4 separate regions of the Homo sapiens genome follow, and all the other regions are linked to region 3. Evidence: fine-mapped expression QTL. A gene starts in region 3. Each other region holds a variant in brackets. All regions are shown on one strand. Distances are between the middles of the regions.

Evidence for each region. PIP is the estimated chance that this variant, and not a neighbour inherited with it, causes the effect.
Region 1: its variant is fine-mapped to the expression of TRPT1 in testis (GTEx, PIP 0.94).
Region 2: its variant is fine-mapped to the expression of TRPT1 in skeletal muscle (GTEx, PIP above 0.99).
Region 4: its variant is fine-mapped to the expression of TRPT1 in skeletal muscle (GTEx, PIP above 0.99).

Annotation. Positions count from the first base shown.
Region 1 is chr11:64,814,132-64,816,829 of GRCh38, reverse strand. No RefSeq gene overlaps it. Among named protein-coding and RNA genes, the nearest start is that of MEN1, 4.9 kb to the right of the region's middle. RefSeq lists an enhancer at 1,945-2,054. The variant G/A (reference allele first, on the strand shown) is at 1,593.
Region 2 is chr11:64,125,373-64,128,070 of GRCh38, reverse strand. The region is part of intron 3 of MACROD1 (mono-ADP ribosylhydrolase 1); the gene reads left to right. Among named protein-coding and RNA genes, the nearest start is that of MACROD1, 39 kb to the left of the region's middle. The variant T/C (reference allele first, on the strand shown) is at 1,324.
Region 3 is chr11:64,224,892-64,227,496 of GRCh38, reverse strand. It overlaps TRPT1 (tRNA phosphotransferase 1), which reads left to right and starts at 1,311. Exons shown (of 8, transcript NM_001033678.4): 1 at 1,311-1,447; 2 at 1,628-1,711; 3 at 1,917-1,998; 4 at 2,527-2,605. The coding sequence starts at 1,637. It overlaps NUDT22 (nudix hydrolase 22), which reads right to left and starts at 1,223. Exons shown (of 6, transcript NM_032344.4): 1 at 1,070-1,223; 2 at 365-862. The coding sequence starts at 844. RefSeq lists enhancers at 45-562, 563-1,082, 1,683-2,405, 2,588-2,605 and a silencer at 1,108-1,517.
Region 4 is chr11:64,099,858-64,102,555 of GRCh38, reverse strand. The region is part of intron 3 of MACROD1 (mono-ADP ribosylhydrolase 1); the gene reads left to right. All of the region lies in intron 1 of FLRT1 (fibronectin leucine rich transmembrane protein 1), which reads right to left. Among named protein-coding and RNA genes, the nearest start is that of MACROD1, 65 kb to the left of the region's middle. The variant G/T (reference allele first, on the strand shown) is at 1,491.

The sequences.
Region 1 (2,698 bases), 590 kb before region 3:
CGATCTCCTGACCTCGTGATCCGCCCACCTCGGCCTCCCAAAGTGCTGGGATTACAGGCATGAGCCACTGCGCCTGCCCCAATAATTTTTATATTTATTACAAATTGAAATCGCATTTTCAGATATATTGGGTTAAACAAGATATAGGATTAAAATTAATTCCACCTCTGTCTTCTTTTATTTTTATTTTTATCTTTTTGAAGACAGGGTCTCACTCTGTTGCCCAGGCTTCAGTGCAGTGGCGTGATCATGGCTCACTGCATCACTGCAGCCTCCAGCTCCTGGGCTCAAGTGGTCCTCCAGTCTCAGCCTCCTGACCTGAGTAATCGGGACCACAGGTGTGAGCACTTGGCTAACTTTTGGGGTTGTTAGAGACAGGGTTTCACTATATTGCCCAGCCTGGTCTTGAACTCCAGGACTCAAACGATCCTCTTGCCTCAGCTTCCCAAAGTGCTGGGATTACAGGCATGAGCCACTGTGCCCGGCTTCTTACTTTTAAAAATGTAGCTACTTAAATTAGCTGGGCATGGTGGCACACACCTATAATCCCAGCTACTCAGGAGGCTGAGGCAGAATTGCTTGAACCCAGGAGGCGGAGGTTGTAGTGAGCCAAGATCGTGCCAATGCACTCCAGCCTGGGCGACAGAGTGAGACTGTGTCTCAAAAAAAAAAAAAAGTAGCTGCTAGAAATGCCAAAATCGTATTGTGGCTCATGTTATATTTCTGTTGAAAGCTCTGCTCTAGATCTTTTCTTTGCCAATAATGACAACCCCCTCCCCATAATTTCAATCTCAAGCATCCTACTCTCTCTTTTTTTTTTTTTTTTTTTGAGACAGAGTCTCGTTCTGTCACCCAGGCTGGAGTGCAGTGGAACGATCTCAGCTCACTGCAACCTCCGCCTCCCGGGTTCAAGCGATTCTCCTGCCTCAGCTTCCCGAGTAGCTGGGATTACAGGCGCCCACCACCACCCCCGGCTAATTTTTCAACCGCCTCAGTTAAGTGCTGGGATTACAGGTGTGAGCCACTGCCCCTGGCCAAGCATCCTACTCTCTAACCAACACCACTCTCTTTCCAGCCCACTCTAGCACCCCAACTCGAATTGACGGTTGACCCCACAGAAACCTGCAATCCATTGATATTACTACACATTTGCTGTCTGTCACCCTTCTCTTGTCCTTACATGCCTCCTCACACAGCCTACATTCCAGGTCAATCATTAATCATGACTGCTTTGGCCAGGTGCAATGGCTCATGCCTGTAATCCCAACACTTTGGGAGGCCGAGGCAGATGGATCACCTGAAGTCAGGAGTTTGAGACCACCCTGGCCAACATGGCAAAGCCCTGTCTCTACTAAAAATACAAAAATTAGCCGGGCATGGTGGCGGGCACCTGTAATTCCAGATACTCGGGAGGCTGAGGCAGGAGAATCACATGAATCCGGGAGGTGGAGGTTGCAGTGAGCTGAGATTGTGCCACTGCACTGCAGCCTGGGAGACAGAGGGAGACTCCATCTCAAAAAAAATAAAAATAAAAATAAAAAAACAATAGAAAAATAAAAACAAACAAAAACCCTACTGCTTTGCATGCATGC[G/A]TGTATTCTTTAGCAAATATTTGTTGAACACCTATTATGTGCCAGACACTATTCTAGGCCCAGGGGACACATCAGTGAACACGGCAGACACATTTCCTGTCCTGTAGAGCTTATCTTCTGGTGGTAGGGGACAAACAATAAATAAATCAGGCCAGGCATGGTGACTCATTCCTGTAATCCCAGCACTTCGGAGGCTGAAGTGGAAGGACCACCTTGAGCCCAGGAGGTCAAAGCTGCAGTGAGCCATGGTTGCACTACTGCACACCAGCCTGGGCAACAGAGCGAGACCTGTCTCAAAACAGAGAAACAAAGTGGTCATATCATATGTTAGAATAGTGGTTCTCAAGCTGGGGCTATTTTGGCATCCCAGGGGACATTTGGCAACATCTGGAGACATCTTTAGTTGTCCCCACTGCGGGAGCTGAACTGGTGGCATCCAGTGGGTAGAAACCACAGATGCTGCTCGTCATCCTACAATGCACAGGACAGCCCCAGTCACAGAATTACCCGACCTCAAGCGTCAACAGTGCCTCCTTCCAGAGCCCCTGTCTAGAAGGTGTTAATGCTAACAAAGCAAACAAACAAACAACAACAACAACAACAAAAAAAACGTAGAGCGGGCTGGCCGCGGTGGCTCATGCCTGTAATCCCAGCACTTAGGGAGGCTGAAGTGGGCGGATCACCTGAGGTCAGGAGTTTGAGACCAGCCTGGCCAACATGGCAAAACCCCATCTCTCCAAAAAAACACAAAAATTAGCCAGGTGTGGTGGCGTGCACCTGAAGTGCACCTGAAGAGGCCGAGGCAGGAGAATTGCTTGAACCTGGGAGGCAGAGGTTGCGGTGAGCCAAGGTCGAGCCACTGCACTCCAGCCTGTGTGACAGGGTGAGACTCCGTTTCAGAAAAACAAAACAAAAAGAAAAAAAATATATAAAGCAGGGTTGAGGGATGGATAGAGGAATTTCGAGTGGAGGGTGTGATTTGAAGTAGAATGGTCAGGTCTGTGTCAGCCTTTTTGAGGTGACGTTTGAGCAATATTGTGAAGGTGGGGAACCCGGTAGACATCTGGAGAGAAGATGGTAACCCACTGGGCTTCCTATTTCACTGA
Region 2 (2,698 bases), 99 kb after region 3:
CAGGGCCACCGGCCACTGAGAATTAACTTTGCTTCTTTGGAATATAAGGAAAAACCCGTTAACTGTATCCAGACATGAAATCAGATCTCAGGCAGAAGTAATGAGTTCTTGTTTTATGTTAAATTTAGCAGAGACTGCTATTGTTCTCATGGAAATTTTGTTCCTTCCTGTCCCCCTCCCTTTGGGATGTGAGAGAGGCAGATGAGGCTCCAGAGCTGTGAGTGTAATGGGTACATCTAGGGGATGGGGGGCGTCTGGGGTGGTGGCATAAGCTCATGTCCCCAAACACCCGGACAGTCCCACTTTTACCCCGGAGCCACTTGGTTGCTGGAGCCTCTTCCAGGATAACCCATAGCTCCTGCTGACACATACTTCTCCATGTAGAGACCCCTCGGAGTCTACGTTCAGCTCTGGTTCAGCTCTGGGTCCCCTTGTGGTGACTCAGGTGTCAGTAGACCTCTGGGGCCTGTGGGTGGGGACAGAGGGCCCTTCTTCCTGCAGCGGAATCATTTTGGTTGGGATGGTGCCGGAGGGAACAGTCTCCATCCTGCCGGGTCACCGCCTCCGAGCCAGGGCACCCCAAGAACAGAGCTGACCCTCGGGGGCAAGGCCCGGGGAGGGGTGGGCTGAGCCTCGGGGGCAAGGTCCGGGGAGGGGGTGGGCTGAGCCTCGGGGGCAAGGCCCGGGGAGGGGGTGGGCCGCTGAGACCACGTGTGCCCCGGACACCTGGCCCCTGGCCCGATGGGGTGCCAAGCCGAGAGTCAGCAGCAAGAGATGACCGTAAAAGTTAAATCTTTCTATTTATTTCAAGAAAGAACAAGGCAAGTGGACTTGGACATTTTCTATGAAAATAGACAAACAGAAAATAGGACCAAGTAGTTAATCACATTCATCTCAACATTGAAGTTTCAAGGCACCTACAAGAAGGAGGCCAAAGGGCGGTTCGCAGTGCACTTTGGTTTGTGTTGTTGTCGTGGTGGTGGGTGTTTGCGTGTCTCGGTTTTCTGGAAACCCTTGCCTGGTGGTGAGGTTGGGAGCGAAGCAGGTGGGCACGAGGCCAGGCTGGTCTGGGCCCTGAGAAGCCGGGCCGGGTCAGCCATCTGGTCGCATGGCAGCAGGCGGTAGCGGGGACGGTCAGGCCCGTCACTCAGGCCCCTGAGACGGCTTCCAAGAAAAAGAAAGGAGATAGTGCTGCACCTGGGCGGCTGATTCTGGAGGTGAGGAAGGCTGGGGGGCGTGGGAAGTGGGGGTACTGGCACAGGGGCCCCTTGGACATCAGGCAGGACCTCGGTCACAGGCTTGGGAGAGATCAGGCCTGCTCCC[T/C]CTGACCCGGGCGGTTAGCTGGCGGGCTTCCTGCCTTCTATAGAGCAGAAGGACCCACCCCTTGGCCGCCAGGGGCTGGCCAAGGACCCCTCCCTGGTCTCCTCCTCCTCTTCAGACCACCGGGAAGGGGATGACGTTGTGTGCCACTCCAGAATGCTTTACGACACCACATAAGATACAAATAACCTGTTAACATCCGGAAAGGGAATTACTGTTGGTGGCTCTTAAGACATTCCTCTGCCGTGTTTATAGGGGGTACGGGCTCTTTCAGATAACTTTCATCTTTGGCCTCCCTGTTCACACTTACCTCCTGGCTCCAGCCAGCAGAATCCCACAAGCACCTCTCTCTCTGGCTAGCCTATTTCGACGCCACACACCACTCCACCCTCCGTCACCTCTCTCCCCACTTCTCTCACTCTTGGATGACAAGCCCTGAGCGCTGGGCCGTGTGGCTTCCTCCCCATGGCTCTTGGCCTCTCCTTATGAGCTGGAAGGCACCAGGCAGGGTCCTCGGAACCCCCTGGCGGCTCACTTTGGGTACCCAGGTGGGCTGCTGGCGGTGTGGGGTGTGGAGGTGCGTTGTGTTGGGGAAAAACAGCCTAAGGCTAGTTTTGGGGTTTTGTGGGGGTGTCTTCTCACCTGCGTACTCAGAACTTTTGAAAATGGGACTAGCCCGAGGACAGGTGGGCTCAGAACATTGCAAGCCTGCGTTCCACACAAGAAAGGTGAGAGAGGCCTGGAGCCGCCTGGCTCCAGGGAGATGAACTGGTGGCGGCCCCGCATCCGCCATGGCTTTGATTGTCGGTTTGTGGTGCGTTTGTTTTTTCCCGTCTACAGAGGAAGCCCGATGAGTTCCTCCAGGTGGGTGGCTCCAGATGCAGGGATTCTGCGGGGGCAGCAGGCAAGGCAGCAGGTGTCGCCTGGGATCTGGATTTCTTGCAGCGCCTCTGTGGGGCCCTCCCCCAGTTCTCTCCCCCTTGTCATCCACTCAAGGCAAGTCTTGGAGAAGGGAAACTGAGTTACTGACACAGGTTGGGGCAGCCACCGGATCTCTCAGAGTGGCTACATTTCTCCATCTGGCTCACAGCTGGCAACACGTGGATCCAAGGCAGGGTGGAGCGAGGTGCTTCCAAGAGGTAAAGCTGCTGAGATGAGCCCCTCTCTGTGCCAGCTGCTGGCGGGGCAGGAGCAGGACGAGAGAAGCCTGTTTGTTGCCAACACTCGTGCCTGGGCCATCCTCAATGAGTGGGCAGATGGCAACTGGGGAGGAAGTGAGAGGAGGAGGCGGCCTCGTTCCGTTGGTGGCAGAGAAAGGATTGAGTACCCCTGTGTGCCAGGCACTGTGCTGGGCCCCAGTGACCCTGGGAAGGGCAAG
Region 3 (2,605 bases):
TACCTGCTGGCCTTGAGGGTCTGATGTGGCACAGTGTAAGAGAGTTAGTGATCCTGAGTCTGGTGTCCTTTCCCTGACAGACAACCAGAGGTCCAGCTTCAAAGGAGATACACAGGGGGCAGGGGTGGAGTAGGGCATCTTCTTCCTGTGCCCAATCTTTCCTCCCGTGTTTTCTAGTTTCTCACAGGACTGGGGCAGGGGTCAGTGGGGAGGCAGGTGGACTGCCCTGAGCAAACTTCCAGAGAAATACCAGGCCAATTTTCCCTTTAAGGAATGAGGAAACCAAAGCTGGGAGGATTGGGAGGGTGGAGAGCTGCAGCTCCCTTGAGCTGTCTGGGTCTTTGTGCCCAGCCTGGAATCTCACCTGAGGCTCAGGGTGCCCACCAGGTACGTCCACCAGCCCAGGGGCCTCAGCCACCTGCCGGGAGCGGCGCAGGAAGACAAGGAAGTCATCGGCTGTGGCTAGTGCAGCGCCCACCCCCAGTGGGTCCGCCAGATAGGCCTGCGTGTCACCCCAGTCGGTGGCACCCTGCTGTCGCAGCCAGGCAGCTGAGCTGGACCAGTTGGTGCCCAGGAAGTCTCGGTAGGAAGTAAGGCCCAGGCGCAGGAGCAGCTGTGGCCCCCGAGAGCCAATAGGCGCCAGGGTGGCTGAGTGCAGGCGGAACTTGGGGGCGTCGAAGAGCCAGGGTTGGGCCTTTAGCCGGGTCTCCCAGATGGCAGTGATGGCCTCGTCCCCACCTGGCAGTGGGCGACGGTCATGGGCGGGGCTCAGCTCGGCCTGTATCTGCTCCTGGGGCAGGCCCCCGCCAGGGCACTGCAGCAGCAAGGTCACCTCAGGATCCATGGTCTGAACGGGGCAGCTCTGGGGGAGGATACGGCCAGGCCTGTCATCCAGGGGGGCCACTACCACTCCTGGGCTGCGCAGCTAGCCCCCTCTGTCGCAGACCTCCTGAGGGTATCCGCAGCGCTTCTCCACCCCCCTGACCACTCCTTGGGCAGTAAAACGTGCCATCTTCCCCGCAGGAGCCCCGAGTCCCGCAGGGTATCCAGGACGCCCGGGCATCCCTACCATCCAGAGGTCTTGGGTTCAGGCGCCCCAAATGCCCATGTCCCCCAAACCCAGGGGTCTGCCTCCGACCCGGGGCGCGCGGGGACCCCTTTCCAGGGCCCGGAAGCTCCAGCCTCCAGCGGGCGCTCACCAGCCGCCGGGTCCCTCAGGCTCCGCCCCTTCCCCGAAGCGGAAGTGCCCGCCCCCTTTCCACGCGGCTTTTCATTGGCGGGTCCGCCGCGGTCGAGGATCCTGGAGGTTTGTCCCCGCCGCCCCGACGCTTCCGCCCGGTCCGTCGGCACGTCGGCCCTGCCTCCCGGACCACCCTGCGGGGCGCACCAGCGATCTGGGGTGCGGGGCTCGGCCTCCCTGCGCTCCTGGCTGACCGTGTGACCTTGGGCAAGTCTGGCCTGCTGGGCCTTAGTTTCCCTCTCTGCAGCAGGGACTTGGGGGTGGTGAACTTAATGAGCCGTATACTCCCACCCAGCGCTCACTTCCTGAGGCTTTGTGACTTTCTGGGAGGGATGGGGACGTGGAAGGGGCCTTAAAGCAGTCCCCCCTCGTCACTGCCCCCCACAGGTCTTAACCATGAACTTCTCTGGAGGAGGGAGGCAGGAAGCAGCAGGGTCCAGGGGTAGAAGGGCTCCCAGACCCCGAGAACAGGTGCGCGCCTCCTCCCCACCCCCTCCCACCAGTCCAGGCTCCCTGGGAGTTGCTGGGGGGCGGAGCTGAAGGGTCCTACTATTCCTGGAGACCACTGGCACTCCTTTCTCTCTGGGCTCTCTCTGCAGTGGGTCATTGAGGGTTCAGGATGGGCAGTAGGGCAGGGTCACCATGGAGACTAGGGGCCACCGCTGGGTTCTTTCAGGACCGAGACGTGCAGCTGTCCAAGGCTCTGTCCTATGCCCTGCGCCATGGGGCCTTGAAGCTGGGGCTTCCCATGGGAGCTGGTAAGTAGGGGCCTTGGAGGCTGGGGCTTGAGCCCAGAGAGAAACGTGAGCCTGTCTGCGACTCCTCCCTGATGGCTGCCTCCACCGCTCCCTGAGGAAGGCACAGAGTGCACTTCCTCCCCATGCACAGAGGAGAGCAAGGCCTAGAGCCCCTGTCATGTCCACAGCAGACTGAGGAGAGTTCTTGTCTGGGCCAGGCCTGGTGACCGCCCCCTCCAGCCAAGCAGCCAGATCAGCACTTACCCCGAGGGCGAGCCCTGGAGGATACGGTGCAGCTGGTGGTGTGAGTGTGCACTCCGGGCCAGCGCTATGCTGGGCACTCACCTCCCTGCCCCTCCGTGAGGCAGATCCTCTTTTTATGTAAGTTGAAAAAACTGCGGCCCAGAAAGGGGAGACTTTCTAAAGGTCCCACAGAGGATGCCCAAGCGATCTCCAAGCCCAGACTTTGTTTCGGTTGCCTGTGGCTCCCTGTTAACCCTGGCCCAGTCCAGAGCAAGGTTAGCTCCTGAGCACCCTGCCTGCCCACAGATGGCTTCGTGCCCCTGGGCACCCTCCTGCAGTTGCCCCAGTTCCGCGGCTTCTCTGCTGAAGATGTGCAGCGCGTGGT
Region 4 (2,698 bases), 120 kb after region 3:
AATTCCCCCGGCACCTGCTCTTCTTGCTAAATGTCATTCAAAGGCTCCAACTGGGCCGCCATGGCCTGGGCTTCCAGAACAAGCACTGCCTTTCCCCACCATGGGAAGCAGGACCATCAGGGAACTGGGGAAGTTGGGTCTCCGTGTTTCTGGCCTCTGTCTGGTGCCCACCCCACTTCCTAGGTGGGGGGTCAGTCCTCAACACCCGCAGCCGCCCTCCTCTTCCACACAGACGGAGGGCAGGGCAGGCTGTTCTGGAATCCAAAACAAAACCCCGAGCCCTCCCCAGCACCTCTCATTAGTGCGGCATGTGGAAGGGCCGCGGCGCCCTGGTGTCTGTATTCCCCCTGCAGGAACCCCTCTTTGGAAAAGGGCTTTTATTACACATCTGAGAGTGCTCACTCTGGTTTGAAATCAGATCCAGATGGGCTCAGCTGCATCTGGGCACTTTTCTTTGTAGGGCCTAAGGTGGCTGATTTGAGAAATGCTTGTTGTCAGAGGCCGTTACAAATAAAAACAGGGATATTAGGGTTCATGTTTTAATAAGCCCAGCACCCAGATGGGGGGTGGCTGCCCACGGGGCTCACAGCCTGGCAGGGAAGGCATTTGGGAAGGGTGTGTGCCAGCCAGGTGGTGTGCAGGCTGAGTCTGATGGGGTGGACAGGGTGGCAGGGGGAGTTTTCTTGGGACAAGCTGCCCTAGGAAGAAGGAGGTTTCAGAGCCAGCAAGCCCCACGGGACATCGATTCTGAATGGCCAGTGCCTGGTGAATACTACAGGTGGGGCACAGGCCCTGGAAGGGGTACGGTGGGGCTTACGCAGGAGGGAAGATGAGGACAGAGTCCCTGCACGCGGCGGGAGGGCGGCCGGCTCTAGCACGAGCCCTTATTGCTATTACCACCCGCGTGATTTCATCCAATTATAAATTGTAATTTCTCCATGAAAGCGAGAGATGGAAAAAGTCCAGTGAGGTCATCCGCCTCCCTGGCCGGGGCGCAGAAATTGTTTTATACCGATGGGGGTGGGGCAGGGGCAGCGGGCCTTGGCATTTTGAGAGGATGATTGCCGTGTCCTGGGAGCCCAGAGGCTCCAGTCAGCTGTGGCCGCTGCCTCCCGATAAAGAGAGAAACCACTGAGCTCTGCTTTTGAAATTAAGAACCCAAAAAGGAGGCAGGTTCATCCCACTGGTGTGTTCACCTCAGACCCTTCCCATAGCTTCTCGGCTTTATCCTGAGAGCGTCCCATAGCTCTCAGGATAGAGGCAGTGCTCCTACAGTAGTCTCCAAGGGCCCTGCCCAGCCCACCAGCCGTGTCTCCCACTACTGCCCACTAATGCCCTGAGCTGGCTCCAGCCTGGCCCTTCACTGTACTGTTCCCCTTCTGTAAGAATCCATGCAGACGTCATCCCTCCCTCCCTGCAATGGGCCACCCTCTGCTTGGCTTGTGTGGTCCTGTGAACCATGACAGCAACAACGGAGCATGAAAAGAATT[G/T]TCTCCCTGGCTTCAAGGGAGGACCTGAGGCTGGATCCCCCAGCACCTGGCTCAGTGCCTTGCATGCAGTTGGTGCTTAATAAATGCACCCACCAAACTCTCCATCTGCTCCCTCATTTAGAAAACCAAGGCACTAAGTGAGGCTCTTGGTGCCCGTCCAGCTTTGTATGTCCTCAGTCCACCTTCCCTGCTGCAGCCCCCACCCCCACCTTCCCTGGGGCCTGCAGAGCCTCCTGGAACCCCAGTGCTGGGATACTGGGCTCCTCAGCGTCTGTGCCCTGGATAAGTGGGGCCTCTCAGGCTTCTGGGGTGTGTATTGGTTTTCCAAGTGAGTCTGGCTGGCAGTGGTTGGGAGGTGTGAGCTCTCCAGCAGCACTGTGGCTCTTCCCTTGTGTGGGCGCATAATGATGATCATTAGTAGCCACCTGCATTCACTGAACCAAAGGAGGCCCAAGAATAAATATGTAAATGCGTGCGCCTGGCAGACACCTCCCGCCAGAGCCACAGCACCCCCAGTGGCCACCCTTCTGGCTCGAGTGAGTGGAGACCATGCCGTGTGAAGTTAGTGGTTACACTCCTCGCCTTGGCCTCCCCCGTTCCCACAGGCTCCAGGTCTGGTCTCTGTGCTCAAAACCAATAAACCATTTTTTGAGTCAACATCATAAAAGCTTCCATTTTGAGTAAAAGTACTTTGAGATGCTTACACAATTTTCTACTTTTGTTGTCGTCAATCACATCACAACTGTATTAAAAGAAATTTGAAAGGAGGGAAAGAAAGCCAAGTGCCCAATCTCACATCTCTGCACCACCCTCTGCGTTTTGGCCGAATCTGCCCATACATATATGCCAGGGGACAATGCACCTTGTCCTTTCCCAGTAATTTCTGCCTTGCCATCTTCCCTGAGCTTGGGAAGACAGCATGGCTAGCAGGTCAGGGAGGACCACTTTCATTGTGTGGACTGAGAAGAGGGAGCAGGACTTGTGCAGGGTTATACAACCTGTAGCAGTGTCAGGGCCTCAAACTCCAGGCCAGTTTCCTTCTTGCTGCACTACTCCAAGACAGCGCAAGAGAAACGGACCATCCACCAAACACTGCACTGAGGGGTCCTGGGCTTCTCCTGAGGCTCTCTTGTGCACCCCTCCATCCATCCATCCCTCCATCCTTCCATCTCTCCCTCCATTTCTCGATCCCTCCATCTCACCATTTC